Homo sapiens: one gene and its partners. The protein of the gene in region 2 interacts with the protein of the main gene of each other region in a biochemical or structural test. Each region holds a gene or a part of one and is shown on either strand. Other genes may lie near its edges.

Evidence for each region.
Region 1: the proteins of METTL3 (region 2) and NCBP1 are reported together in a solved structure, tested with the Homo sapiens proteins (one study listed by BioGRID).
Region 3: the proteins of METTL3 (region 2) and EIF3H form a complex in vitro, tested with the Homo sapiens proteins (one study listed by BioGRID and IntAct).
Region 4: the proteins of METTL3 (region 2) and EIF3J form a complex in vitro, tested with the Homo sapiens proteins (one study listed by BioGRID).

Annotation. Positions count from the first base shown.
Region 1 is NC_000009.12:97,664,821-97,671,820, reverse strand, and holds part of NCBP1 (nuclear cap-binding protein subunit 1), read right to left. Parts: intron 5,059-7,000; coding exon 4,944-5,058; intron 2,976-4,943; coding exon 2,847-2,975; intron 2,229-2,846; coding exon 2,115-2,228; intron 736-2,114; coding exon 622-735; 3' UTR 1-621. UniProt on the Homo sapiens protein: Component of the cap-binding complex (CBC), which binds cotranscriptionally to the 5'-cap of pre-mRNAs and is involved in various processes such as pre-mRNA splicing, translation regulation, nonsense-mediated mRNA decay, RNA-mediated gene silencing (RNAi) by microRNAs (miRNAs) and mRNA export.
Region 2 is NC_000014.9:21,508,314-21,515,724, forward strand, and holds the start of METTL3 (N(6)-adenosine-methyltransferase catalytic subunit METTL3), read right to left. Parts: upstream 3,028-7,411; 5' UTR 2,911-3,027; coding exon 2,811-2,910; intron 1-2,810. UniProt on the Homo sapiens protein: The METTL3-METTL14 heterodimer forms a N6-methyltransferase complex that methylates adenosine residues at the N(6) position of some RNAs and regulates various processes such as the circadian clock, differentiation of embryonic and hematopoietic stem cells, cortical neurogenesis, response to DNA damage, differentiation of T-cells and primary miRNA processing.
Region 3 is NC_000008.11:116,724,818-116,731,852, reverse strand, and holds part of EIF3H (eukaryotic translation initiation factor 3 subunit H), read left to right. Parts: intron 1-5,680; coding exon 5,681-5,837; intron 5,838-7,035.
Region 4 is NC_000015.10:44,554,135-44,561,169, reverse strand, and holds part of EIF3J (eukaryotic translation initiation factor 3 subunit J), read right to left. Parts: intron 6,618-7,035; coding exon 6,503-6,617; intron 3,682-6,502; coding exon 3,520-3,681; intron 922-3,519; coding exon 848-921; intron 153-847; coding exon 21-152; 3' UTR 1-20. UniProt on the Homo sapiens protein: Component of the eukaryotic translation initiation factor 3 (eIF-3) complex, which is required for several steps in the initiation of protein synthesis.

The DNA of each region.
Region 1 (7,000 bases), on a different chromosome or scaffold from region 2:
GGTGATTTACATTAAGACAAATTTGAGAGCTACTCTTCCAACTAGTAACACTTTTATTACTAACAAGTCATGTCTTAAAGATACTACTTAAAAATACTTTGAAGATAAAATTTCAAATGGAGAACACCTTCAGTAAGAAACCACCAGTTTTAGAGTAGAGTGAGATGATAAATCATGAAATGCCAAAGTTTAAAAACCATACTTTTAGTTTTATTTCAGCCATGTTAATTCATCCCCGAGCTGTGAAAAGTTATGCTACTGGGTAGCTGGGTAAACCCATCAGTTCTATATACTATGTAAGGTTGACCTCTAGTGTTTCACATACCTCAAACCAATTATTTTGTGCCTTAAGGAGAAAAAAAATAACAAACTGATCACAGAGAATTTGTATCTGTCACATATATAATATATCATGGTCATAGTCACATTACTGCCGTTAGGAAGTATTTGCTTTTCAGGGCAATTAAAAGTAATGCCATGTTCATTCACTGTCCTCTTCCCCTTTGTTTCCTTTAAGAAGTGAAAGGATACTACAAGAAAGCAAGCATTCAAACCATCAAAAAATAAGACAAATTATTTTAAGATATCAAAAAAAACCTTGACATGAGGAAAAAATGACCCTTAGGCCTGCAGGGCACAGAACTGCTGGAACACGGCCAAGATATGAGGGTCTAATTCAGCAGTGAAGAGAAGGTTCTCCAGGGTCACCATGTACTGCTGGATTATTTGGTGATGCTGTGGACACACAAAAGGGGGTAGTTAGGTCAGGAAAAAGCATATAAGCAATCTTGTGGAACATTTCCTTCAGCAGCCCACCCATGCTGCAGAATGATGAAAAGAGGAAGGGGAAAAAAAAGTGCTGATAGGAACAATGGACCCCTGAAAATCCCCAACATTAAAAAAATAAAAAGGGAAATGAAAAAAATGGATGCTCAATAGCTTTTTAAAAAATCCAGTTCTTACCAACTTCTATGTAAACAGAATTCATGATTCAAGGCAGTGGCAGCAGTGCCTGCTTGCTCCTAGTACTATTACGGACTAGGCTCAGCTAGCTCTCTCCCCAGTCAGGGCATAATACATTGTAACTTTTTAAAAAGCAGCCAGACGGACTGACAGGAAGATAAACAGTCAGAAAACGAAATACTCTTGTCTATGTGTTCCTCTATAAGCCATGAATACTCTCAGAGATTCTTATAGGACTAGAGACTGTTAAAGCTTTTAAAACTGGCAGTAACTATAAAATCAGAGGGAATTCCTATTTGGAGGCTCAAAGAATTGAACTTAGAGTGACTTCTACATTAATCATTCTTCTAGAATGAACAAATGAAGATTTAGGGGAGTAGTGTCCGAAGATACAATGAATTAGCTCCACTCTCCTATATACCTTTAACTTAAATCTAGGTGAGAATAGGTGCCGGCATTTTGCTTTTGCAGAGAGACCCCAGGGAGCTTACCTTGATTCTGTGGACAGTTTACCACCTGCACATTGGATAACACTGGCTTTTTAGGGACTTATAAATCCAATTACTGTCCTCTTGATATTTTTGTCCTCTACATTTTATATTACAGCTAGGATCCCCAGCATAGAAAATGACAATTAGGAGACTGGGCACCGTGGCTCACGCCTATAATCCCAGCAGCACTTTGGGAGGCGGAGGCCTCCTGAGGTCAGGAGTTTGAGACTAGCCTGGCCAACATGGTGAAACTCTGTCCCTACTAAAAATACAAAAATCAGGCAGGAGTAGTGACGGGTGCCTGTAATCCCAGCAATATGGGAGGCTGAGGCAGAAGAATTGCTTAAACCTAGGAGGTGGAGGTTGCAGTGAGCTGAGATCGTGTCACTGAACTCCAGCCTGGGCAACAGAGTGAGATGCCATCTCAAAAAAAAGGTGGGGCGGGGGGTTGTTGGGGGGGTGGCAATTAGGAATCTAAGTGGTACAGAATCAGTTTAAGCCTAAATATTCTGATGAGCAATGGTAGCAGCAAATGGACATGAACTAAAGGGTCTAACAGGTACTATATAACCTCCTAACAAATTTGACAAGGATTTTTTTTAATGAAAAATCTTTGTGGCTGAGAATAGTGTTATTACCTAATCGAAGTTCCCCACATACCTGTAGGAAGATCTGCTGCAGCCTCTCTATACAGTTCTTATACCATGGTGTTAATACACTGGTCCCATCAGTTTCGCATCGTACTAGGTGCTCGGTCAAGATCATGATAAACCGCTGGAAAGGGAGAAGAAGTTAAGGTAGTACTACAGACAGAATCTTATACTTTGGAAAAAAATTCATGACAAAGAAACCCCAAAGTATTGCCTGTTCCACCCTGTCTTTGTGGTGTGTGTGCCTAGCTTCCATTATTCATGAAGTCAACCTAGAAGGGCAGACTGGTAATAACATGAGTTGGTACATTCTTCCTGGCAATACATAAAGACCTTTAATGTCTTAAATTACTTATCCTAGTAATATTACTTCCTGGAATCTATTCTAACGAAGTAATCAGAAATTTTAACAGGAATCTATGCATTAAAATGTTCATGGAAGGAAAATGATCAGCAATGAGGAATAATTAAACGAGACATATATAAAAAAAGCAACCCACAATTTTTTTTCAAGCATGGAGAAATGCTCATGCGAGAATACTAAGTAAACAGCAGAGAAACTCAGACATACATGGTTGCCTCTGAGTAGTGAACTTTTATTTCCTTCCTAAATTTTTGTATTTTTAATCTCTTCTATAAATGAATGTGTATTCCTTTTACAATGAAAAATAACATTTTTAAAAACTAAAACTAAAGAAATGTATTGTTTCCTTTTATGTATAAATGTCCCAAGCCAAGATACCTGAAATATAACGAGGAAAAGATTCTTTTGTTCACTCTGAGCAGATTCCACTTTTTCCTGAAGTCGTTCTATTTGTTCCTCAAGAACCCCGTCTTTCCTGTCACTGCTTCTGTCGTCATCATCACTTCGCTATAGAAGGCAAATGAACAAAAGGAAAATACCATTTAGATTCCAGTGTGTTAAATCTCCTCCAGGGGAAGCATTTTACTGTGTCTGGCCAAATGTTAAGACTTATATTCTATAGTGAAAGTACCCCCCCACCCCGCCACCCACACATATATACCTCAAAGTCCTGTTGTGGTTCAGAGACACTGTCTTCTCATTCAGAAATTCCATGGGTTCTTATCTAGGCCAGGGAAATTTAGTGGCACTTGTCTTGGTAACAACATGGGGGGACTTGGCTACAATTTATCACTATTTGACCATTTGAGCAGTAACAACAGGGAGACAGCTTGCTAATCATTCATCTGCTAATGGGCCATACAGAAAAACTGGGCAAGTCCTATGGGCCAAGGCTGCTCATTCTTGTTATAATTTAGAAATGGCTCCAGCCGACATATAATAATTCAAAGTGGGCTGTTTAAGACTTTCTGCTGGCAATGATGGGCTCAATATACTCCTGTAAAGCTTTAATAATCCCTGCCCCCAGCTCACTCTGAAGAGTTTATAGAATTTAATTTTTTCTTTTTAAAGGAAAAGAAAAACAAGGCATGGTTTATTTCCATTTTACAGAGAAAAAAGGCTGAGAGGTTAGATGACTTTCCCAGCATCACCCAGTCAGAAAGTGGCAGAGCCAGAACGTGGCTCTAAGGTGTTACATACCAAGGTACTTTCAGCAAGAAGGTGGCATCACTGAATCTAGAAAGCCTGGTAATTCTTCGAGGTTAATACTTAACTGCTAAGGCCCCATCTACTGATCTCTCCACTTTAAGCAAAATTATCAGAACCCTGCTCTCGGATATCACAGAATCTTGCTTTTCTCTCTATAAACACAGCCCATTTATGAGGTCTGCTCTATGTTCTAGACACGTGGGTACACGACTGTCCTTTCCTAACACCACTCAAAGGTAAGGTTCTAGAGCACTACTACCTAATAGATAGACCTTTCTTCAATGGGGCCAATGTTATATAAATATGTGCAGCCTGTTACGACCGCAACCACACGTTACTACTGAGCACCTGAAATATGGTTGTGTGACCAAAGAACTGAATGTTAAATTGTATTTAACTAAAATAGTCACGTGCAGCTAGTGGCTACTGTGTTGGACAGCACACTTCTAGAAACAGTGTGGCATGAGAGAAAAGTCTCTGGAGTCTGACAGACCTGTGTCAGAACCTAGCTCTGGTCATTTACCAGCTATGCAACCTACTAGCTATGTTACTTAACTTCTCTATGTCTCACTTTATAACATCTACAAAATGAGATGACACCATTTACCTTACAGTATTTCAGGTCTGAGTGTTTATATCCATATATGTATACAGGTATGTCTACATGGAGACTGGTACTCAAACTTGCGAAAGGTTCCTATAGGGCACTAAACTCAACTTTTTTTCACCTTCTACTATGGTAAATATGCATAACACTGGAAAATACTTTCATAATGAATAGTAGTATCATGTTAAGTCACTCACTGCTTCCCTCCAAAATGGCTAAAATACTAAATTAATACTATGAGAAGTATTCCGTTAACTTGGGAATGACTGCCCCATTCCTCCTCACAGTACGGGGAAAGTGTTAAGTATCTATAGTCCTCTCCCTCTTCCCCCAGAGACTCCTACAGAAATACAAGTGTCCTCTTCCCTTCTGCTACTTCCCTTGTGCAAACGTGAGGCCGACCCAGAGATAGTGAACTATGGGAAGTGAAGTTTGTGGCTTCCTGAACTGGTTCATCATGCAGTGTAACAGCACACAACACACTACCTGCTCCTTCCTCCTCTTCTGCTTCTGCATTAAATTGGGCTCAGAAAAATTTCTGCTCTGCATTAATTTGGGCTCAGAAAAAATGAAATATCATCAAGATAATGAACTCTGAATCCTCTCCAGAGTTTCTGGTATATTTTCTTTAACTACTTACAAGTTTACACAAAACTTACCCGTTTGTGTTGCCTAGCAAGTTTCTCTTTAGCTTCTTCCAGCTCTTTCTGGATCTTCAGGACATGTTTGTTCATCTTACGAATTGTAGAGTGCAAAATTTCCCAAACAAACAATCTTAAAGAAATATGGCATTTGGTTACTGTATGTCAAGCTATGGTTACAGAAAATAAAATCTTTCAACTTTTGTAATTTCATTCTTAACAGCTGATACAGCCTTCTGTCCTTGGGGCTGAATTAGTCATCTTTCTCCAGCAATACTTACAAATTGGTCTTTTATTGTAAATTGTGCAAGTATCTATCTTCACACCCATTAGATTCAGGCGAGCCCCCTGAGGGCAGCACTGTGTAGTCATTTTTCTTATTTCCATCCCTTACCAGAGGTACATACTTACTGAATTGAAATGGCAAACTATGATGGACATTAACATTAAAAATGGAAATACATTTTTCCTCTCCTAAATGTAAACATTATGTGTAGAAATTTTCTCAAAATGGTGACCTAACCTGAGACTTATTTCCCATGCTTTATATTATTTAACTAGCACACACTCAGCCAATTATTCTCTTGGAATGTTTAAGAAACTCATTAGTTGATAATAGGTATCAACTGATGGGCTCTAAGAATGAGATAATTATATGTCAGCTTTCTTACTAGCAAATACATACTAAGATCACTTTGTAGGTGCTTTGAAATGTTTGTTGCATAAGTGTTTTTCTTTTAAAAAGTAACTTCTCAGCTACTTTTGTGTCTATAAACTAGGTCTCCTAACCCAGCACAGAATAGTACAGTTGGCCCTTGAACAATACAGGTTTGAACTGTGCAGGTCCATTTACACATGGGTTTTCTTCCACCTGAGTCAATAAGACCAACCCCTCCTCTTCCTCAGCCTACTCAATGTGAAGATAATGAAGATGACCTTTATGATGATCCACTCTCACTTCATGAATGTTTCCTCTCTTATGATTTATTGTAAGAATACAGGATATAACACATACAACACAAATATGTGTTAATTGACTACGTTATCACTAAGGCTTCTGGTCAACAGTAGGCTACTAGTTAAATTTTCCATGCAGTTAAAAGTTCTATGCAGATTTTTGACTGTGTGGGGTGGGGTGGGTGGGGCGAAGTCGGTGTCTCTAACCCCTGTTGTTGTTCAAGGGTGAACTGTACTTCCTTCTACAAATTTTGACCCAAATAATAGTTTAAGTGGAAGATAATAAAACAATCTGTTCATAAAACTCCAAGTCTAGAATGTTAGGAAACAGGACAAAAGAGCAGAGCACTTTAACTCTGGAGGGGGTGGACTATAGTCAGGGAAAGGTTTGCAGAGTTACAAATATTTGAGCTAGGTGTTAAAGAACAGATGGAGCTGTTGAGCACTATACAGATTCCAGAATGCCTGGGTTTGAATGCTGGCTCTGCACTTAGTTGTGTGACTTTGGGCAGGATAAAGCACTCTGTGACACTTCCCTATTCTGTAAAATGTGGACAATAATGGAACCTTCTCTACGGTGATGCGGTAAGGATAAAATGAATTGAAAACGTAAATCACTCAGGACAATGGTTAAAACATACTCGGGTGGTTAGTTTTCTGAGAGTTTACAAATCTGAAAAGGTTCTTCTGTTGTCTTTGTTTATGAAGGCCAACCTGGCCGGTATGACAACCTTAGATCACACCCTATCACCCTAACAATTCAGTATATTTCTGATCAGTGTCCTCTGGCAGTAACAGATACAGTGGAAAAGTTAAAGGTTGTGATGGACTTTTATGTTTTTACAAGTAATTTGCTTTAGTTTCCTGCTTTGTGTCAACTCCTGCTGCCCTGGTCCTATCAGCTGTAAAGTCCGTGAACTTCATAAATAAGAACCAAACAGCAAAAACTTTCTTTCCGTTAGGGGGAATGAGGGCAGAATGAATCTTCTGCATTAAACCTAAGATTATGACTGTGGTGAGAACCCCTTTCCCCCATCCCTCAGGTGTCTTGTTAATCACCAAGCTTTCCTGGATCCCTCCATGATTTACTCTACTTTGACTTTGATTTCTCCTACTTC
Region 2 (7,411 bases):
TACAAATCAAGAGATATTCACATCTAAAAAAGAAAAAATAAATAAAAATAAAAAAGGATATGTACATGCAGGGAGAATACAGTCTTATTGTCAAAAATATTAAACATGTTTAGCAAGGACCTGGATCAAAGTATCAAGGCTCTAGTAGTTAGGTCTGCATACAGCAGAAAGTTTGGTTAATACCAAAATGTAGTTAATGTCATAGAAAAATGAAATGAAACTTAAAATGACCAAGAGCAATTAGAATCATTCATTGAAAGAGTATGAATTTAGAAATGGAAAAGTATAAAGAAGTATGATGCCGGGCACAGTGGCTCACACCTGTAATCCCAGCACTTTGGGAAACTGAGGCGGGCAGATCAGCAGAGGTTGGGAGTTTGAGACCAGCCTGACCAACATGGAGAAACCCCGTCTCTACTAAAAATACAAAATTAGCCAGGAGTGGTGGCACATGCCTGTAATCCCAGCTACTCAGGAAGCTGAGGCAGGAGAATCACTTGAACCTGGGAGGCGGAGGTTGCGGTGAGCCAAGATCGCGCCATTGCACTCTGGCCTGGGCAACAAGAGCGAAACTCCATCTCAAAAATAAATAAATAAGTATGATGAGGAACAATTAAAACCAAGAAACAACAAACAACACCACAGATAGAGGATGGCCTGTCACAAAAACGACAGAAAGGTGAACACAAAGTAGTCAATGATGTAGTACACCAATATAGCGGCTTTTTAAAAGTTAATTTTGTAGGCCAGGCATGGTGGCTCACGCCTGTAATCCCAGCACTTTGGGAGGCCAACGTGAGTGGATTGCTTGAGCTCAGGAGTTAGAGATCAGCCTGGGCAACATGGTGAAACCCCTTCTCCACCAAAAATACAAAAAATAGCTGGGCATGGTAGCACACGCCTGTGGCCCCAGCTACTTGAGAGGCTGAAGTGGGAGGATCGCTGGAGCCCGGGAAGTCAAGGCAGCAGTGAGCCATGATCATGCCACAGCACTCCAGCCTGGGTGACAGAGGGAGACCCTGTCTCTAACTAACTAACTAAATAATTTTGCAGATCACTTTGTTGAAACAAACAACTACCTGATCCTCAGGTCCCCTTTTGCAACTGCCATTGCTGAATGGGAAAAGACTCCACAGGAAAATTAAATAGGCTGGATATGGTGGCTCTCACCTGTAATTCAAACACTTTGGGAGGCTTAGGCAAGAGGACAGCTTGATGCCAGGTGTTCAAGACAAATTTGGGCAACATAATGAGACCATATCTCTATTAAAAAGTTAAAAATTAGCCAGGCATGGTGGCATGCACCTGTAGTCCTAGCTACTCAGGAGGATGAGCCGGGAGGACTGCTACACTCCAGCCTGGGCAACGGTGAGAGACGCTATCTCAAAAACAAAAGCAAAAAAAGTCGTTGGCATCATTTATGCACATTTTTAAAAAGTTTCAAAACAGGAAACCAAAGAATAGGGGAAAAAACATAACAAAACAAAAAATTGTATCTATAAATAAATCAATGAAGTTTCTAGAGCAAGGGAAAAAAAATTCTCCCTCTTAGGTAATTCAGGAACTACTCTGAGACTTGACTACTAATTATTGCCTGACCATATGACTTGCACTTCTTACTCCACTATCCTCCCCTCTTACCTCTTTAATTATCTAGGTCCTATATAGCCATAAAGGCCAAATTCAAGTGCCAATTCCACTATGATGGTTTTGATGGCTTCACTACCTACACCAGCTCTTGTTACTTCTCTTCATTGTACAGACTGTAGATTCATTCATTTGGTTTCGTACATATATCTTATCATATTCCTCACTTTTTGTAAGCGTCTCCCCTTGAATCCTATGCTTTTTAAACTTCTTGAGGACAGGGGCAATTTCTTCCTTATTTTTGTCTAATTAGACCCATGAACACTGTAGATACTCAAGAAAGGTAATTAATTAGGTGGGAGGATCCTGCCAGTGCATCTTCTATTTCTAGGGGCCAGAATACGAGCACATGAACCTAACATGATCTAGACAAGATTTAGAGATGCAGTTGAAGATACTGACAAATATTGGAACAATCTACCACAAAGGTGATACTGAGTCACTATTTTTGCAGAGCTTTGTTACTAGTTTGCCTTAAATAATTCAGAGTTTGTCCTGAGGGTAGGGAGTGGATAACAGTGAATTTAATCTTTTAAATTTCCTTCAAGTTTTATGATCGTGACACGGGGGCAACAGGAGAAGAGAAAAAGTTTGGAAACCAAACACAAATGTTTTCAGATTCCTGCTAGGTATGTAAATGGCTAAGTCAATGCCGGTAGGGGTACTCATTCAGAAACACCCAGTGCCACTCTGTACGGGCCACTAAATTGGGCACTGCGGATATAAAGGTTCATTCCTCGCTTACTGTACCCACAGCTGCCAAGAAATGACCACTACAAAACAGTCGTTATAACTGAGGGAACAAAGCGCCAAAGCAGCAACAAAAAGGGGTTCTTGCTGCTTCGCGGGATAGGGGGCTGAGCAGCCTCACAAAGGCGACGTCCTCGCAGTCTGAAGAGGAGTGGGCAAGGCGGACGAGGGTGGGGCTCAAGCGTCCGTCCGGTAAAAGTGAGCTGGAAGAACCGAGGCCCAGCGTGAGGAGGAACCGCGAACTACTTGCAGAAGGGCGAACGTCTGCTGCTGAAGGTGGAGAGGGAGTACCAATGTACGAGGCTTTATAGAAATGGCCGTTTGGTAAAGGGCAGTGACTCTGGAGCTTTTTCTCTAGGGATCCCGCCCGTCCTCCCCGGTTGAGCCTCGGCCCCAACAGCCCAGTGCCTCACCCAAGTGCCCCGAGTCCTGCTTCCGCCTCCGCTGCAGCCTCTCCCGCAGAGAGTCCAGCTGCTTCTTGTGGGCCTGGATAGAGCTCCACGTGTCCGACATCCTAGTCTCCCAGCCCTGACACCTCTCGAATAAGGCGCGGCGGACTAGCACCTCCCAGCACTCGCTCCAGGATATAGCCAATTCTCACGCGGACACCCCGAAGGCTAACCGGAAAATGACCCCTGGAGCTGAGCAAGACAGAAAAGTCATTTCCGGTGTCGCGCTTTCTTGGAAGCTATAAAGAGCCACGTTAGGTGTTGGCAGAGCGGCCGGTATAGTCCTCATACCCGCTCTCTCATGCTTCCGGACACAGTGAGGCTGTGGTTGCCATGTTGGTGACTGGCAGAGCGGCCATGTTGCTTATAGACGCGCATGCGGCCATGTTGAATATTCGGAGAGGAGTCCTGAGAGTTGACTTGTGTTAAAGTAGCACTCGTAGAGAGCAACACCATATAGTACAGTTTTGGGGGTTTTTTTCTTTTTTTTTTTTTTGAGACGGAGTTTCACTCTGTCGCCCTGGCTGGAGTGCAATGGCGCGATCTCGGCTCACAGCAACCTCCACCTCCCGGGTTCAAGTGATTATCCTGCCGCAGCCTCCCGAGTAGCTGGTATTACAGGCGCCCGCCACCACGCCCGGCAGATTTTTTGTATTTTTAGTAGAGACGGGGTTTCACTGTGTTGGCCAGGCCAGTCTCGAACTCCTCACCTCGTGATCCGCCCTCCTTGGCCTCCCAAAGTGCTAGGATTACAGGCGTGAGCCACCACACCCGGCCATAGTACAGATTTTTAAGATGAAGGATCACTAGTTCCTTTTGACAGTTTGGTACTAACATACCTTTTCCACTGAAGGTGGTGTTGGTTTGTTTCCATGCGTTCATTTACAAAAAAATAAAAAACACAACGGTGGTCCCCAATCTGAGGTGAGGAGGGGGCGGTGGTGGGTGCGGGCATGCTTCTTTGTGTTGACGAGGCGTGGGGAAGTGGGGAGGGCTGATGAAGGAAAAATCCGAGAGGTCTTCAAATACGTGATCTCTCTCTTAGGCTAAATTTACAAAGTACGTGTAATCTATTAAAATCGGGTTCCGACACTAAGAGGGCTTTGAGGTCCTGGTTGCGTTGTGTTTTTTGTTATGAGAGCTACCTGCATGAGTGTGTTCAGTTTGTGAAATGTAATTGAGCTGAACATTTTGGTGTGCACTTTTCTGTATGTGTAGTAAACTTAAATACAAGGTTGGTGGTGGTGGTTTTTCCTACAATCCTTTCTTTCTTTCTTTTTTTGACACATTTTCTTTTTTTTTTTTTTTTGAGATGGAGTCTCACTCACTCTGTCACCCAGGCTGGAGTGCAATGGCGTGGTCTCAGCTCACTGCAACCTCCGCCTCCTGGGTTCAAGCGATTCTCCTGCCTCAGCCTCCCGAATAGCTGGGATTACAGGCGCGTGCCACCACACCTGGCTAATTTTTTTTATTTTTAGTAGAGACAGGGTTTCACTATGTTGGCCAGGCTGGTCTCGAACTCCTGACCTCGTGATCTGCCCCTACGATCTGCCCCCCTGCCTCAGCCTCCCAAAGTGCTGGGATTACAGGCGTGAGCCACCGAGCCTGGCCTGACACAGAGTTTCATTCTTACTGCCCAGGCTGGTGTGCAGTGGTGTGATCTCAGCTCACTGCAACCTCCACCTCCTGGATTCTAGCTGCCTCAGCCTACCTAGTAGCAGGTATTACAGGGACCTGCCACCATGCCCAGTTAATTTTGTATTTTTAATAGAGATGGGGTTTCACCATGTTGGCCAGGCTGGTCTTGAACTCCTGACCTTAGCTCATCAGCCTGCCTTGGCTTTCCAACGTGCTGGGGTTACAGGCATGAGCCACCGGCTTGGCCTTTTGTTTGTTTGTTTGTTTTGTTTTTTTAATGGAGCTCCCTGAATGGAAACATTTCGGGAATCACTGACTTATCCAATGTCTACATGATGCCATACGCTGTTGTCCAAAAAATACAAAAAATAGTTTGACTGGCATGGCTCCTGTTTTCAAAGAGTTTATAATCTGGTCAAGGAGCTGTGAGCCAGTTTATTAATACTGAACCATCTTCACAGCATGAGGTAGCATGGGCATAGACTTTTTAAAAAACAAAAACAAAACAAAACAAAAAAACAGGAAAAAAAAAAACGTGATTTCAAAGAAGAGGAGGACTCCAAGTTTAATGACCCAGGAAGGCATTGGAAAGAAGCTGGAATCAAGGTTCAGGCTTAAAATGACCACTAAGGTTTCAGTAGGTGAAGGTATAGGAGGGAAATCCAGGTCTGGAATATGATAAAGGCAAAGGTCTAGACTAGAGGTAGGAAAGCGTGATGTGTGTTATGCCAATCTGGATTAGTTCGCCAGAACATAAAGATTTATATTTGGGAATATTGGGAGAAATTTTAGGTTTCCAAATTTGAGGCCAGATTGTAGAAGGTACATGGTACCTGAGTAAAGACTTGGCAATTTATTCAGAATACAATAGGAAACACTTAGGGTTTGTAAATAGGAATGTTTCAAAATTGATTTGCTGTTCTAGATAAATTGAGGTGAGGAGGAAGGAGATTTTGGAGAGGACAAAGATGGTTATTAGTCCATTGTAACTAAGTGTCTGATGAGAAGAACTGTAACTAAAAGCTGGTTATGAACAGTAATGAAAAGGAAGGGGTGAATATGAAGGGAGCTATTGAAAGATGTATGTGTATTGTAATATGACTTTTATCCATTCAGTAAGTATTGAGTGTTTACTATGTGTTAGATACTATGGAGATTTAGTAGTGATGAAAATACTCATTTCCATCTCATTTTCTGAACTTAATTTACTTTTAGGGAATTTACACTATCTATTGGGATGTGTAACTTTGTTTTTTTGTTTTTGTTTTATTGAGACAAGCCTCACTCTCACTGCTGGAGGGCAGTGGTGCAAAGAAGTAGCACAAGTACTCCTGAAAGTCAATCAAATCAAGGGCAGCTCCCAGAAGTTTTTGCTTTCACATTAACTCTGGGTAAATTATTACAGTGGCATATTGGGCAAATTTTAGAAGTACAGGAAGGCCTCTTAGCATGATCTTCTTGTAGAGAGATTCTTTTTAGACTCCTCTTGACCAGTTTGCTGCTCAAAAGAAAGACATTGCTTTCTTGTCCGCGCGTAGCCCTCAGCAGTACACAGAGGAGAAGGAGGAGGAGGAGGAGGGAAAAATGCAGAATTCTTCTAGTCAAAATGGAGTGTAAGCCTAATTTTGAGCAGATGGGTGCTGCATGCATTACACTTCTCAACTTTTCCTCATATCTGCTATGGTAGATTGCTTCCAGTGTTGGCCACAACAATGCCTCTCACCTACATGCCCTTAGGCAGTGTGACTTTGCCCCCTTTCAATCAATAAGTAAAGCTTATTCCCCCTCCTCTTGAATCTGAGCTAGGCTTCTGACTAGCTTTCACCAAAAGAATGTGGCAGAAGAGATATTCCCTGAGTTCTAGACCTTAAGAGGTCTAGACCTTAAAAGGAATTACAGCTTTCGGGATTTGGTTTTGTTTTGTTTCTAATTTTTGAGAGAGAGTCCCTGGGTCTGTTCCATCTAAACACTGTTGAAGCAAGAGACAGATCTGAGGGACCTCCAGATGTGCTGCCGCGGCTTCTGTTTCTGCCCTCTTGGAACCCTGGGCCTTCATGGAAGTCCAGTCACCCTGATAGACCACTTAAAAAGAGAGACCCTGGGGGATGAAGGATGGTAAGGAGAGAGGGTTCAGCATTCCAGCCAGCCATCTGAGTAGCCAGAAGTTGAGGCCATCTTGGCTTCTCCAGTCCAGATGAAAGCTGCATGAGTGAGCCCAGTCCTCACCACATGGAACATAGACAAGCCATCCTACCAGGCACTCCATGGAATCATAAGCAAATACGTAAGTATTAAGACACTAGGCTGGGTGCGGTGGCTCACACATGTAATCCCAGCACTTTGGGAGGCCAAGGTGGGCGGATCATGAAGTCAGGAGTTCGAGGCCAGCCTGGCCAACATAGTGAAACCCCATCTGTACTAAAAATACAAAAATTAGCCAGGTGCGGTGGCATGTGCCTGTAGTTTCAGCTACTTGAGAGGTTGAGGCAGGAGAATCGCTTGAACCCAGGAGGCAGAGGTTGTGGTGAGCTGAGACAGTGCCATTGCACTCCAGCCCGGGTGACAGAGCAAGACTCTGTCTCAAAAAAAAAAAAAGAAGACATTAATTGGCTGTGTGCTGTGGTATGTGCCTGTAATCCCAGCTGCTTTGGAGGCTGAGGTGGGAGGATCCCTTGAACTCAGGAGTTCAAGACCATCCTAGGCAACATACCGAGACCCCATCTCAAACATAGCACTAACTGTATACTTCACTTTTTTTTTTTTTTTTTTTTTTTTTTGAGATGGAGCCTTGCTCTGTTACCCAGGCTGGAGTACAGTGGCACGATCTCAGCTCACCACAACTCCCCCTCCCGGGTACAAGCAATTCTCCTGCCTCAGCCTCCCGAGAAGCTGGGACTACAGGCATGTACCACCATGTCCGGCTAATT
Region 3 (7,035 bases), on a different chromosome or scaffold from region 2:
CTGTCCCTTGAGGCATAATTCATGGAAGAATCCTCATTTACCCACTAATTTATAGGGTAAACAAATCTAGTCAGCATCGGTTCTTAACAGTCTTAGATAACGGGGTCAGATGCTAAGGTGTAAGTCTTACTGTGCTGCAGAAAACATGAATGTTTCAAGATGGGTTGCTGGTATTACCTTCCCTCTTGTTTATATGCTGTAGAGATTGTTCCAACTAGGGCTTGAATTCCTCTTATTAGGGTGATATTTATGCTTTTATAAACAACATGTTCACTTTTGGGTCTGTATTTCTCAGTGCCTTCACTTTTCAGCAACCCACGAAGTCTTAAAACAGAGGAAAGGAAATTGGGGTTTGACCAGCAGTGTATTGTAGTCACCTGAGGAGTTACAACAAAACAAAAACAAAGGAAAGCTAGGCCATACAACTTCATTAGAAATTAGAACTAAATAGGATGTTAGAGTAAGTTGGAGAACTAAAAACAGACACCACCTACCAAACCCAGTATAGGAACCCAGCCGGTATCAGTTAGCTGAATTTCAGGAGTGTGCTCACGCATTAGTATACTTTAAAGCTCCCCAGATGGCTCTAATGTGTATCCAGAATGAGGACCCCTCTTCATTTATCTAAAAAAAGCTCTTTAGGTGATTTTGCTCAGCTGGGAATGAGTAAATAGGGCTCCTGAGTGTATATGTATCACAAATGTGGGGTCATTTGTGATACATATAAGCAAAATATAACAGGAGAGTGTTTTTGTTTTGAAGAATGGTTAAGCTTTCCATGTGTCTTTTTCAGCCTTGCTGTTATCAACATATTTGGTGCACTCAGTTTGGTATCACTCATTTATTGTGAAGTAATTAGAAGTGCTTTGGACTCAGAAGTCAGATCTCACTTCCCTGGCTAAATTCCCTGTCAGCTTATCTTTGTTTCCTTATGTAAAATGGGAAAATAATATAACTGACTTCACAGGGTGGTTGTAAGGATTAAATGAGTCCTTGCACGTAAGACGGTGGAGTGCTTGACATATCATAAGTGATAAGTGTTTGCCATTCATTCCTTCAGCAAAATATATTTTGAGTATCTTTTATGTGCCAGTATCTGTGTTAGGTGTTGAAGATGTGGTGAGTAAATCATCCTTTCATTTTTATGGGAACATTCACGAGGGGAAACAATGAGCACAACATGGATTCTGTCTCTATTAAAAGATACTTCGAATCTATGAAACTTTGAAATATATATACATGGCAAATTCTTGGTTATCTATGTAGAATAGCAGAAGTATGTATGTCATTTAGTTATATTTAATCAGGAATTTCCTTTCCTTTTAACATTTAAATCAGTGTCTGCAACCTTTCTGGCACCAGGGACTGGTTTCGTGAAAGACAGTTTTTCCACGTGGGGGGTTGCGGGGATGTGAGAGGATGGTTTCTGGATGACACTGTTCCACTTCAGATTGTCAGGCATTAGATTCTTCAAAGGAGCATGCAACCTAGCTCCCTTGTATGTGCAGTTCACAGTAAAGGTTTGTGCTCCTATGAGAATCAGTGCCACTGGTCACCTGACAGGAGACAGAGCTTAGGCAGTTTACCTCCTGCTGTGCAGCCAGGTTGCTATCAGGCCACAGAGCAGTTCCCGAGCAGTACCTGTCCGTGGCCTTGGGGTTGGGAACCCCTGCTCCAAATGAATCCTACTGTAAGGCATTTCCATGACATTACTTCTTGAACTAAAGAACTGAGGTTTTAGTGTGTATGTAGGAAATAGGACGATCATAAAATGTCACAATGAAGAATGAGCTAGCTTAGTTTTGATAATAGTGATTTTTTCCTGAGTACTTTATCAGATTATATTAAAATGACAAGATCATAAATATTAAAGTTGGAAATTATTTTAGTGATTGAGTCTTTCCTGAATGCTTTCTTTTTTGGACAGCCTTCAGTACTAGAGAGAATTTATCCTTAGAGTTGAAATCTTCTTTCCAGAAACTGTCACCTGTGGTTCTTAGGTTTTGCCTTCAAAGTAAGACTAATCCTCTAAGCAGCCAAAGAACTCTTCAGTATTTGGAAAGTGCTTTTTTTGAGTGTCCCTTGCCTAGAGAGAGATTTGCATTAATTTTACTGGTTCTCATCACAGGATTTTAAGCTTTCTCTCTTGTAATTACCCTTTTCTGTGGATTCTTACTCATACTGATTGTTTTTTGTGCTTTTCTCATTTCTTAGTTTGGTACTGTTACTGGTAAATTTTCTCTTGGGTCATTGTAAAGAACTGAGGATAACAGTTCAGTGATGTCGAAAGAGCGAGATAATTATTTCTTTTACTTGGAGCGCTGTATTCTATTGATACTACATAAAATTGCATTGGCTGTTTGGCAAGCATGTCAAGCCTGGTGTGCTGTTTGGTTACATTATCCTTACTGATCCCTTTAGAATTCACTTTTGTTAGAGTTAAGACAGTTTTCAATATAGTTTGAACTGTAATAACTTGTTTTAAAATATATTAATTTTTTTATTGCTATTTTCTTCATAACTGGAAATGAGGTTATTTTCATCTGGCTTCTTTATGAAACTGTGCTGGTCCTAGTCACCAGTATTCCCTTTTGCATATGTAGGAATCAGCTGTTTAGGAATCACTTCTAGAATTTGTCTGAAGAACTATGTTAAGCTCATATATCTTCTAATATCTCTTGTTTACTTTGATTTCAGTAGTGGTTTAGCAATCTCATTAGTAGGGGTAAGTATAAAGGAATCTAGGTAACCTAGGTGAATTGGTAGTTGTGTTTGTAATAACTCTTTATCAGTTTAGTTTATCCCGTCTTGATCACCTGTATTTGTTCTATTTTTTAAGTGTAGAAATAATTTTTCTTGGCAGAGAGGTATGTTGAATAAGCATTAAATAGTTATTGACAAATATCAACAATATTGGTCATTTATTGAGCACTTACTATGTGGCAGACTCTGTGCAGAGAACTCTATACTGTGTCATTTTTAGTAGTGTCAGTAATGCTATGAAATAGTGCTATTTTGCAAATTAGAATCTAAGGCTTGAGAAGATTAAATAGCTTTCTCAAGGTCACAGCTAGTAAATGCTGGAGCTGGAACTCATACCCATACTTGTATGACTCATCAAGTCCATTTTTGTGCCTTTCAAGAAGTGGAGAGGTCTTTCATACAGGAATGTGTAGGTTGTGCACTTTCATTTCGTAGTATTGAAGGTCTGCCAATCTTATTAGTTGGTGTTACTCCATTTTGAGCTCTTTTCCCTGCTGACTGCTTGCTCTCCTTTGGAGTTCTGTATCTTACTGGTGTAGTCTTTTTGGGTCTATTCATAACACAGTTTTTACTGCATATCTGTTGTCTATTACTACCTGGTTATTTTAACTATCAATTTAGTTACTAATATGAAAATCATCTCCCAGGTTTAAAAACTAGGTTTAAAAACCTACTTTTAAACCTAAAACTAGGTTTAAACTAGGTTTAAATCTTGGCTCTACTACTTCCTAGATGTGTGACCTTTAGCCATTTACTTAATTTCTCTCTGCCTCAGTTTTCTTATCTATAAAATGAGTATTAACAGTACCTTTCTCCTAAGGTGGTTGTGAGAATTACATGATAGGGTAATACATGTGAAATAATTAGATTATTGCCTGTCATACAATGTTTAGTAAATGTAATGTGCTGTTATTAACTGGTCATTAGTTTCTTTTTTTCTTTCATAATTGGTTTATTGGTCGTGTTGATGATCAGTACACAGACATTTCAATTTGTACACAATTCTTAACATATATACTGAAAATCTAAAAAGCCATGTGTTGTAATTTTTAAAAAGTTATTTCAGTGACTTTCCAGCTTAAAATTGGGAAGCAAATTTTCCATAAGAGGCTATCAAGTACCAGTATCTTCACATGTTAGTAAGCTGTTACATAGATCTCACCAATTCACAGTATAATACCATATAGACTACATACTCAAATTTTCAATCTTCCACAGCACATTAACAAAGTTCATTAGAAAAGCAGGACTACCACGACCAAAGATGTTACAGTGCACAGAATTATGACAGGGAGAGCCATGATCAAAGAGTGTTTTTCTTTAGGAAACAATTCTACTAAAAAATAATGTGGGAATGAAAGTAATTTAAAATGTTCAAGACATTAAATGCAGGACTGCAACTCCATATTGCCATTTAGTATGCTTTGTATTACAGGATATAAAAACTAACCCCCCAACTATGGAATGTTAAGCTGACACTCAGGACAGTCAAACCCTCCCATAATTCAGTATCTCACACAAACCTGTGTTTACAAAATAGTTGGTAACAGTATTCCTCTGGGTTGTACAAGATGGGAAATAGGGACCACTGATAAGATACAGTGTGTTATGATATCAGTCAAACTTGGCTTCTTTATCTCTGGCGTCATCAGAGGCTGGACTCTTCTCAGTTTTAGTTTCTTCGTTTTGTGCAGGTAAATTTCTTTAGTTTCCTGGTTAGCCACTTTGGCCTGTTTTCCCTTTGCTCCCTTTTTCCCTTTGTTTGCACTTTTTTGTCTGAAGATTTATCCTTTCCTGCTGCCTTTTTTTAGCTTCGTTTCCACTTTGGCGGGAGCAGGTTTAGCTGACAACCGCATTGATTCTCTCTTAGGCTGTTTCTTCACCATCCGTGTGGCTGAGCTGACCTGTGGGCTCAGGCTGCACACAGAAGTAGCTGCTCACCCTGTGTGTGCCTGGCCCACCCATTACTTCGTTTCTAACAATAATATATTTGTTTTAAATGAAACACTAATAACGTACAAATAAATTGTCATTTTCTTGTTAGAATTATTTTTCCTCTGAGAACTTTACATTACAATTTTGAATGTGTTGCCTTTTGGGTCTTCAGGCCATGGGCTCATATTAAATATTAATGCTATTATTATTAATATGTGCCAGGCACTATAAAACACTTTACATATATTAACGCCATGTTGTAGGAATTATTAATGATTATGATTATTGCAGACTTTAATTTCTTGTCCACCTGTGCACGGTGTTACCTCTTATCTTTATGGGAATATTAAAGGAGAGAGTAGTAGAAGACCTGGTTATTCCATTAGAGGTTGCTTAGTGAATCCTTCTGGTTGAGGAAAACTAGATCATGCTGGAGACTATACCAACCAGATTGTTGTTGGATATGTGTGGGTACGTGTTCCCGTTGTTGCATCCTCTGACTATGGAGATGATCTGTTGAGAAAGGCAAAATGAGAATTTATCAGAAGGCTCTGCTTTCAGGTGTCCCGATAATTGAGACCTTTATCTCTGTGTCTTATTGATAGTTTTGTCATTTATGTGTCTATTAACAGGATCACTTTCTCAATAATAGCCTCAGGTTGAGGGGGTATTCTTTGATTTGGCTGAAGGAACTCCTGGATGCCAGACCATGGGGAAGCTTTGATTTAAGAGCATAACTGCTGTAGATGGACGTTTTTGACATGTAATCAAACTCCTGGAGTTTCAGATCTGCGTTTAGATTATGTGAGCTTTATTATTTATGTAAGGGTAAAGGAAAGGATTTGTAAGACATTTATTTATTCCTCTTATTTAATTTGTGGTTTTGCAAACCTAGTACAGTTTCTTTTGTTTTTTCTTAGAAATAAAGGAAATAATAAACTAGGATGGTTGTTAAGCTCCCTTCTGTGTGTGTATGTTTTAGGTGGTATTAAAGATAATCAAACATTATCAAGAAGAAGGACAAGGAACTGAAGTTGTTCAAGGAGTGCTTTTGGGTCTGGTTGTAGAAGATCGGCTTGAAATTACCAACTGCTTTCCTTTCCCTCAGCACACAGAGGATGATGCTGACTTTGATGAAGGTAAGGGTGTTCATCACAAGTGTGTCTTTGCAGTGCATACAAATGGATATTGACACAGGTCTCACCATAACTTTTGATAATGTGTGAATTGGGAATCTGTCAGGCTAGCCTACTTCACTTGATGTCTGATACTTTGGGAAAATTATATAAATTCTGGGAAATGAGGGTTTATACTATAGACATCATTAGTTTGGCCTTTACTTATTTGGAATTTGTGATTCTGATTTGTCATAGATTGGATAGGAACTGTGCTGATGTTGACTTTGTCAACATGAAATCAGCTTGCTAAATAAAGTTTTGAGGGACAAAGATCATCCTTATGTGTCTGTTATCCATTCCCTTCTATCCTCTTTTGAATAAGTCAGTGTTTAGAAAGAGATGGAGTTCAATTTTCTGCTTCAGAAAGAAGATACTCCTCAAGCATTTCAGAAATTTTATTTTTGTACTATAGGTGTAGTTCCTTTGTTAGCAAAGGCTGAGAGTAGTTAAAAGCTCACATCAAAGGCTAAAATCAGCATCTAGAAGATTTTTTAAAAATCAAGTTGAAAATAACTTCTCACTTGTTTGAAATCCCTGGTTTCATTTTCTGTGTAACTTTTTATTGTAAAAAGCACATAAAAATTTTAAGTATACATTACAGTAGTGTTAAGTGTATGCATATTGTGCAGTAGGTTTCTAGAACTATTTCATCTTGCAAAGCTCAAACTCTGTATCCATCGAACAATCCCTTTTTCCACCTCTTTCATCCCCGCAACCACCATTCTACTTTGTGTTTCCAAGAGTCTGACTACAGATACCTCATGTTAGTGGAATCATGTGGCATTTATTATTTTGTGAGTGACTTATGTTATTTAGCATAATGTCCTAAAAGTTCATCCATGTTGTAGCAATGACAGGATTTTCTTCTTTTTTCTTAAGGCTGAATAATAATTCATCATCTGTATATACCACATTTTCCTTATCCAGCCATCTGGCGATGGAAGTTTAGGTTGCTCCCACCTGTTGGCTATTGTGAATAATGCTGCAGTGAACATGGGTGTGCAAATATCTCTTCAAAATCCTGTTTCCATTTTCTTTTGGATATGTACCCAGAAGTGGTATTACATGGTAATTCTATTTTTAATTTTTTGAGGAACTTCTGTATGTTTTTTTTAATAGCAGCTGCACCATTTTACATTTCCAACCTTGCACAAGGGTT
Region 4 (7,035 bases), on a different chromosome or scaffold from region 2:
CACCAAGAAAAGATAAAATGTCACATGAAGTCTTCATAGTCTTGTACATATCCTCCATCATAACCACCATAATCTGCCAGATCATCTTTCATGGTGGCTTTTAATCCCCCTCCAGGAACCACACCTTTCTTCTTCTTTTTGGCTTTGCTTTGCTAAAGATGAAAGAGAGTTAATTCATGAACCTTAGTGTGCTATGGGCATCTTATCTGGTACAGCAACCCTCATAAACAAACACACAAAAACCTTTGGTCCCAGAAACACTAGTTCTGTAAGGGACATCCGAGCCTACATGTTTTGGACCTGAACAGGTCTCCCAGAGTCAGTCTCTCCAAAACTTGATCTGGGTCCTTGGTCCTGCTCTGGATACCTAGCCCACCAGCAGGGGTTATAAGTTATTGGTAGACAGCCTTAACTTCACTGAAGCAAATTTAGAAAAGTGTGGATAAGTACCCCCCAATTTAAAATCACAAAGCTCTAACCTTTACTTGACATACTTCTCTTACTTTACTCTTATAAATACTCTGCAAAGTGAGTATTATTGTTCCTATTTTAGAAGGGAGAAGACTGAAGCTTAGAAAAGCTGATTTACCTATACCTATTAAGTAGCAGTGCTAGTATTTGAACCCAGTCTGTGATTTCAGCAATTTCTATTAACTCAGAAAAGGGGAACATGTCTGGAAACAAAAGGACAGTAATAGCACCCATACTCCTCTTCTAGTCTAACTTAAATGGTATTAGTGAGTTGCTTGACTTTTAATTAGGACAGGCTCCTATTATATTTGTTGACTGTTAGACCTATAACCCCACTCTAATTTAATACCCATTTCCCTACACAGCTTGCTCTTACCTTTTCTTGCTTCTGTTTTTCACTGCAAAGCACAGTCAGTGAATTGGTAATTTTTTTCAAGTCATCAATTTCCACTTAAAAAAAAAAGGGCATACCATTAAACTTGAATTTTTAAGCATTTTGAAAAGTTAAAGCTAAATATGTACATTCCATATATATCTATATATCCCAAAATGTACATTCCAAAAGTGTTATGAGAAATCCAATTTGTTCATTGTTAAACTTCAGTAACTTTGAAAGGACCATGAATTTCTCCTCTTTAAACGTAAGGTGGCCGGGCACAGTGGCACATGCCTGTAATCCCAGCATTTTGGGAGGCCTAGGTGGGTGGATCACTTAAGCCCAGGAATTCGAGACCAGCTTGGGCAACACAGCTAGACCCTGTCTCTTGAAAACAAAATTCATTTTATTTATAATGACGACCTGTAATCACCAACACACCATTGCTCAACCAAAGAGAAACTGTCTTTATAGCTCACAATGCTCCCTACTATCCTTCCTCAGTCTAAACAAATGGGGGAGGATAACATGCCCTTCCATTAACACACCCCCAGTAATCAGGGAGAACAGACAAATAAACATGAAATGACAATTACTATTATTTTTTTTTTTTTTTGAGATGGAGTCTCACTCTGTCACCCAGGTTGGAGTGCAGTGACGCGATCTCGGCTCACTGCAACCTGCGCCTCCCGGGTTCACACCATTTTCCTGCCTCAGCCTCCCGAGTAGCTGGGACTACAGGCGCCCGCCACCATGCCCAGCTAATTTTTTGTATTTTTAGTAGAGACGGGGTTTCACTGTGTTAGCCAGGATGCTCTTGATCTCCTGACGTGATCCGCCTGCCTCGGCCTCCCAAAGTGCTGGGGTTACAGGTGTGAGCCACCGCACCCGGCCTATTTTATTTTTTTTTTTGAGACAGAGTCTCGCTTTGTCACCAGGCTGGGGTACAGTGGCGTGATCTCGGCTCACCACAGCCTCCACCTCCCAGATTCAAGTGATTGTCCTGCCTCAGCCTCCCGAGTAGCTGGGATTACAGGTGCGTGCCACCATGCCCAGCTGATTTTTGTGTTTTTTTTTTTTTTTTTTAATAGAGATGAGGTTTTACCATGTTGGCAAGGTTAGTCTCAAACTCCTGACCTCAGGTGATCTACCAGCCTCAGCCTCCCAAAGTGCTGGGATTACAGGCATGAGCCACCACGCCCGGCCAGAATGACAATTCTTAAACCTACAATGACAACACCCTATCCCATGATGTCTCCATTTTCTTGCACGGGAACTACAATGAGAACAGTGACCATCTCTATGTCCTACCAAGAAATAGTCCTGTTCAGTGGACAGCATTATCAGCCTTATAAAAATATGAAGCTGGAAAGAGACACCAGTTTTTAGCTACCAGAAAGTGTTCAGTTTTGGTTAGAGAACACCTCCAAAAACCAGAAAAAAATTAGTACATGCAGAATAAAATATCAACTCTGGGCACATTACCAATCAAATGTAGAACCCTCAGCTTAGTGATAATTTATCAAAGAAAACCCAATTCATTGTGTAGGATTCCTTTTTCTCCATCTTAAAAACTGCAAATAGGCTGGGCGTGGTGGCTCACACCTATAATCCCAGTACTTTGGGAGGCCAAGGCAGGGAGATCACCTGAGATCAGGAGTTCCAGAGCAGCCTGGCCAACATGGTGAAACCCCGTCTCTACTAAAAATACAAAAAATTAGCCGGGCGTGGTGGCAGGCGCCTGTAATCCCAGCTACTCAGGAGTCTGAGCAGGAGAATTGCTTTTTTTTTTTTGAGACGGAGTCTCACTTGGTCACCCAGGCTGGAGTGCGGTGGCACGATCTCAGCTCACTGCAAGCTTTGCCTCCCAGGTTCATGCCATTCTCCTGCCTCAGCTTCACCTTGTTAGCCAGGATGGTCTACAATCTCCTGACCTCGTGATCCGCCTGTTTTGGCCTCCCAAAGTGCTGGGATTACAGGCATGAGCCACTGCGCCAGACCAGGAGAATTGCTTTAACCCAGGAGGCAGAAGTTGCAGTGAGCTGAGATCGTGCCTCTGCAATGCAAGACTCCATCACAAAAACAACAACAACAAAAAAACTGCAAATACTAGCAAAACCAGTCCCTTCCATACATTCCTGCTTCACCACCCATGGCTGTCACTCCCATTCACCCTGCCCTGAAATGTATGACTCCTATCAAGGTGTGGCACCACAACCACGGACCCAGAGAATAGGTGCCAGCCCTGTCACTCAACTTGCACCCTGTCTAATTCTGATTTGTAAAAGACAGTGGCTGAAGTCTCACCCAACCCAAATCCTACAGTGCCAGAGACCTTTTCCCTCAAAAGATACTTCCCAGCCCCTCTCAAGTGATAATCAGATAAAAAGAATAGGCCAGTGTTTTATTAGCTGCTTTGCTGACAAGCCCAGGTATCTCTTAGGGAAGCCATTGTAAAACAAGAAGTCCTCTTACCCCTACAAACAAACAAAAAGATCCAGCACTCAAATTCACTGTATCTGCAGAACAACATTCACAAGGTAATTGCTAAAAACAGCAAATCATGAGTCTGTATTATAGTATCCTTGAAAATAAAAAATAACCTTCAACCTCCTGAAGAGAACATCCTACTAAAAATCTACCCAGAGGGGCTAGAAATTAGAATTACTTACATGAAATACACACATCTCGAACTAAGACTTCCAAAAAACTGGCATAATATAGTGACTTTTCATATTGTGTAATTTTATCTTTTAGTAACTTTCCAAACTCTGTAAAGTCATCTCTTGAAGATGGGTTCATAGCATCTATTCCATAAACTGCATTATTAACACCTGTAGGAGAAAAGAAGCACTGAAAAGTATCAGGAGGTTAGGATTTTTAAAAATGAAACCTTACAAAGCCAATAGCTATCTGAATAACCCTGTCGTTTCATTCTAAAGCAGGGGCTCTGAACCTGGAGCCACTGGAGTCACTGGATAGAATGGCTGGGTGAGGGGGGAGGGGGGTTACAAACTTAAATCAGAAAAAAAGTTACATCTTTATTAACCTCTAATTCAGCATTTCCTTCAGTTTCAATTGACTGGCAACAAATCACAGTGGTATTAGCAAAACTTGACTTACCAGGAGAGATCACACTCTCCTGCCATTACAGATATCTTACAATATTAATATTGTTCAGTCATAATTACTCTCAAATGACATTATTTGACGTGCCACTACACCTGATTTAATGCATCGATAAGGAAGCATATAATTCTGTATCACAAATTTGTCATTTTAGTATTTTGACATCTATTTATATATAACAGGTTTTCTTTATAAATAAGTATTTTATTCATTTAAAAACAATATATCAAGGCCAGACACAGTGGCTCACACCTGTAATCCCAGTGTTTTGTTTGGGAGGCCTAAGAGGAAGGATCGCTTGAGGCCAGGAGTTTGAGACCAGCCTGGGCAACACAGCAAGACCTCATCTCTACAAAAAAAATTTTTTTAATTAGCCAGGTGTGGCCAGACGCAGTGGCTAACACCCGTAATCCCAACACTTTGGGAGGCCTAGGCAGGCCGATCACCTGAGGTCAGGAGTCCGAGAGACAAGCCTGGCCAACATGGTGAAACCCTGTCTCTACCAAAAATACAAAAATTAGCCAGGCATGGTGGTGGCATGTATCTGTAATCCCAGCTACTTGGGAGGCTGAGGCACGAGAATCACTTCAACCCAGGAGGCGGAGGTTACAATGAGCCGAGACTGCACCACTGCACTCCAGCCTGGGTGACAGAGTGAGACTCTGTCTCAAAAAAATAAATAAAATTAGCCAGGTGTGGTGATATTCACCTGTAGCCCTCGCTACCCGGGAGGCTGAGGTGGGAGGATTGCTTGAGCCCAGGAGTTTGAGGCTGCAGTGAGCTATGGTCATGCCACTGCATTCCAGACTGGATGACTGAGCAAGAACCTTTCTCTAAAAACAAAACACAACATATTACATTACAAAAGGGATACTCTGTTCTTGTCCAAGAACACCCCCACAGTAAAGTGGGGAGAGAGGGAACAAAAAGAATAAGAAACAAAGATGGATCCTGTGAAAGTATTTGTCTAACTCCAGAAGCTAAGCGGGGGTAAACATGTTAAATCCCAATAGAAGAAATCTGGCCTAGGCTGTGCATGGTGGCTCATGCCTGTAATCCCAGCACTTTAGGAGGCCAAGGCGGCAGATCACTTGAGCTCAGGACTTCAACAACAGCCTGGGCAGCATGGTGAAACCTTGTATCTACAAAAAAAGCCCCAAAAAACAAAAATTACCCAGGCGTGGTGGCATGCGCCTGTAGTCCCAGCTACTTGGGAGGCTAAGGTGGGAGGATGGCTTGAGCCCAGAGGCAGAGGTTGCAGTGAGCCGATCTCAGCCACTGTCCTCTAGCCTGGATGACAGAGCCAGACCCTGTTAGAAAAAAAAAAATCTGGCCTAGATGAGTTTTACACTAAGATAAGTATGCTTCTGTATCCTCCATGTCAAGTAGATTAGTTATTAACAATATTACATGTGGTATTTTAGTATGAGAAACACAACAGTAAAATCCTATTAACAATGACTATATGAATGCATGTTTTTACCTTTTAGTCTATAACAGGTGTCCCATGCTAGGCTTTATGCACACTTCATAAACCTGCCTCTTTAATAAACACATGGGCAGCTTTTACCATCCTAGGAAGACACATATTAACAGCCAAGAGCTCTCTATAATTAGATGAGTGCAGTTAAGACCTGCCAAGCATACAATGGTGCACAGGAGCATTCACATCAACTCCTGGTATTTGTACAGATCCACTGACAGATAAGGTCATACTTCCTCATGAAAAGGAAAACAATCACTACAGTCAGCCTGTTGATCTGTTTCAGAGTAGAGAAAGTATGAAAGTGGGGGAGGGGTATCAGAATAACTAGAGCTTTCCTTCTTGGTTATAAATTTCAGTGATTTAACTGTTTCAACATGATCTTCTACTCTGAAAAGTACTCAACAGGTAACGATAACTTGGTTAAATGAAGCGAGGGCTTTGACTATTTCTCTAGCCATGTCTCTTACTCTGGAACACTCTGAATTTATCTATTTATAGGATCCTGCACTTTTATCTCACGCACTAACCACAGCTGCAGACACCGCACAAAGAAATGGAGGCCCTCTAAAGATAGGGCATGGTAAGGGCAAAGAAGGGTTGCAGAAGGAAATGACACTGAGCACAAGAAGGCACAGCAAAAGCTGCATGCCTCTCACCTGGAGCAACATCCTACTGTCTAAGTCTTAAGACAACAGGACAGCCCTACAGTCCATTTCAAAGCTACAGACCTCACATTTCATGCAAATTTCATCCAGCTGATAAAAATATTCTATGCAGTAGTGTACTTCATCTGAGTCTACTCCTTTTTGCCCTTCTTGCATTGCTATAAATGACTTATCTTAATAATCTTTTACTCAAAACAATTATTCAAAAATCTGAACATGTAATGAAATCTCAAATATACACAGAGATTAAAAACTGCTTTCTAATATCTACATTAGCCAGTATGTTTCTTTTAAGAAAAGGAGATGTTTTCTGAACTTTCTGGGTCTTCACCTGTAACAGTTTAATACTGTATTGCAATCATAATCCCGTCTTACCAAAAGTTTCCTTTGCTAATTCGAGGTCTGACTCTTCCTGTAATTTCTTTAGCCGCAGTTTATCTGCTAATTGTTCTTCTGGTGTTAGCACTTTAGGTTCTTCGGGTTCTTCTAACTAAAATGAGACAAAAGTTTTTAAAAAGCACAGGGATTATGATGCACTCAGTACCTTTCTGTATTGTACGAATTCTTAAATAAGCGTATATAATAACAAATAAAAGTGAACACTGGTAATTACTGTTTCAGGCATTCTTCTAAACACTTTAGTTTTTTTTTTTTTTTTTTTTTTTTTAGACAGAGCCTCACTCTGCCACCAAGGCTGGAGCACAGTGGCATGATCTTCGCTCATTGTAACCTCTGCCTCCTGGGTTCAAGTGATTCTCATACCTCAGCCTCCCGAGTAGCTGGGATTACAGGCGTGCACCACCACATCCAGCTAATTTTTGTAGTTTTAGCAGTGATGGGGTTTCACCATGTTGGCCAGGCCGGTCTTGAACTCCTGGCCTCAAGTGATCCGCCCATCTCAGCCTCCC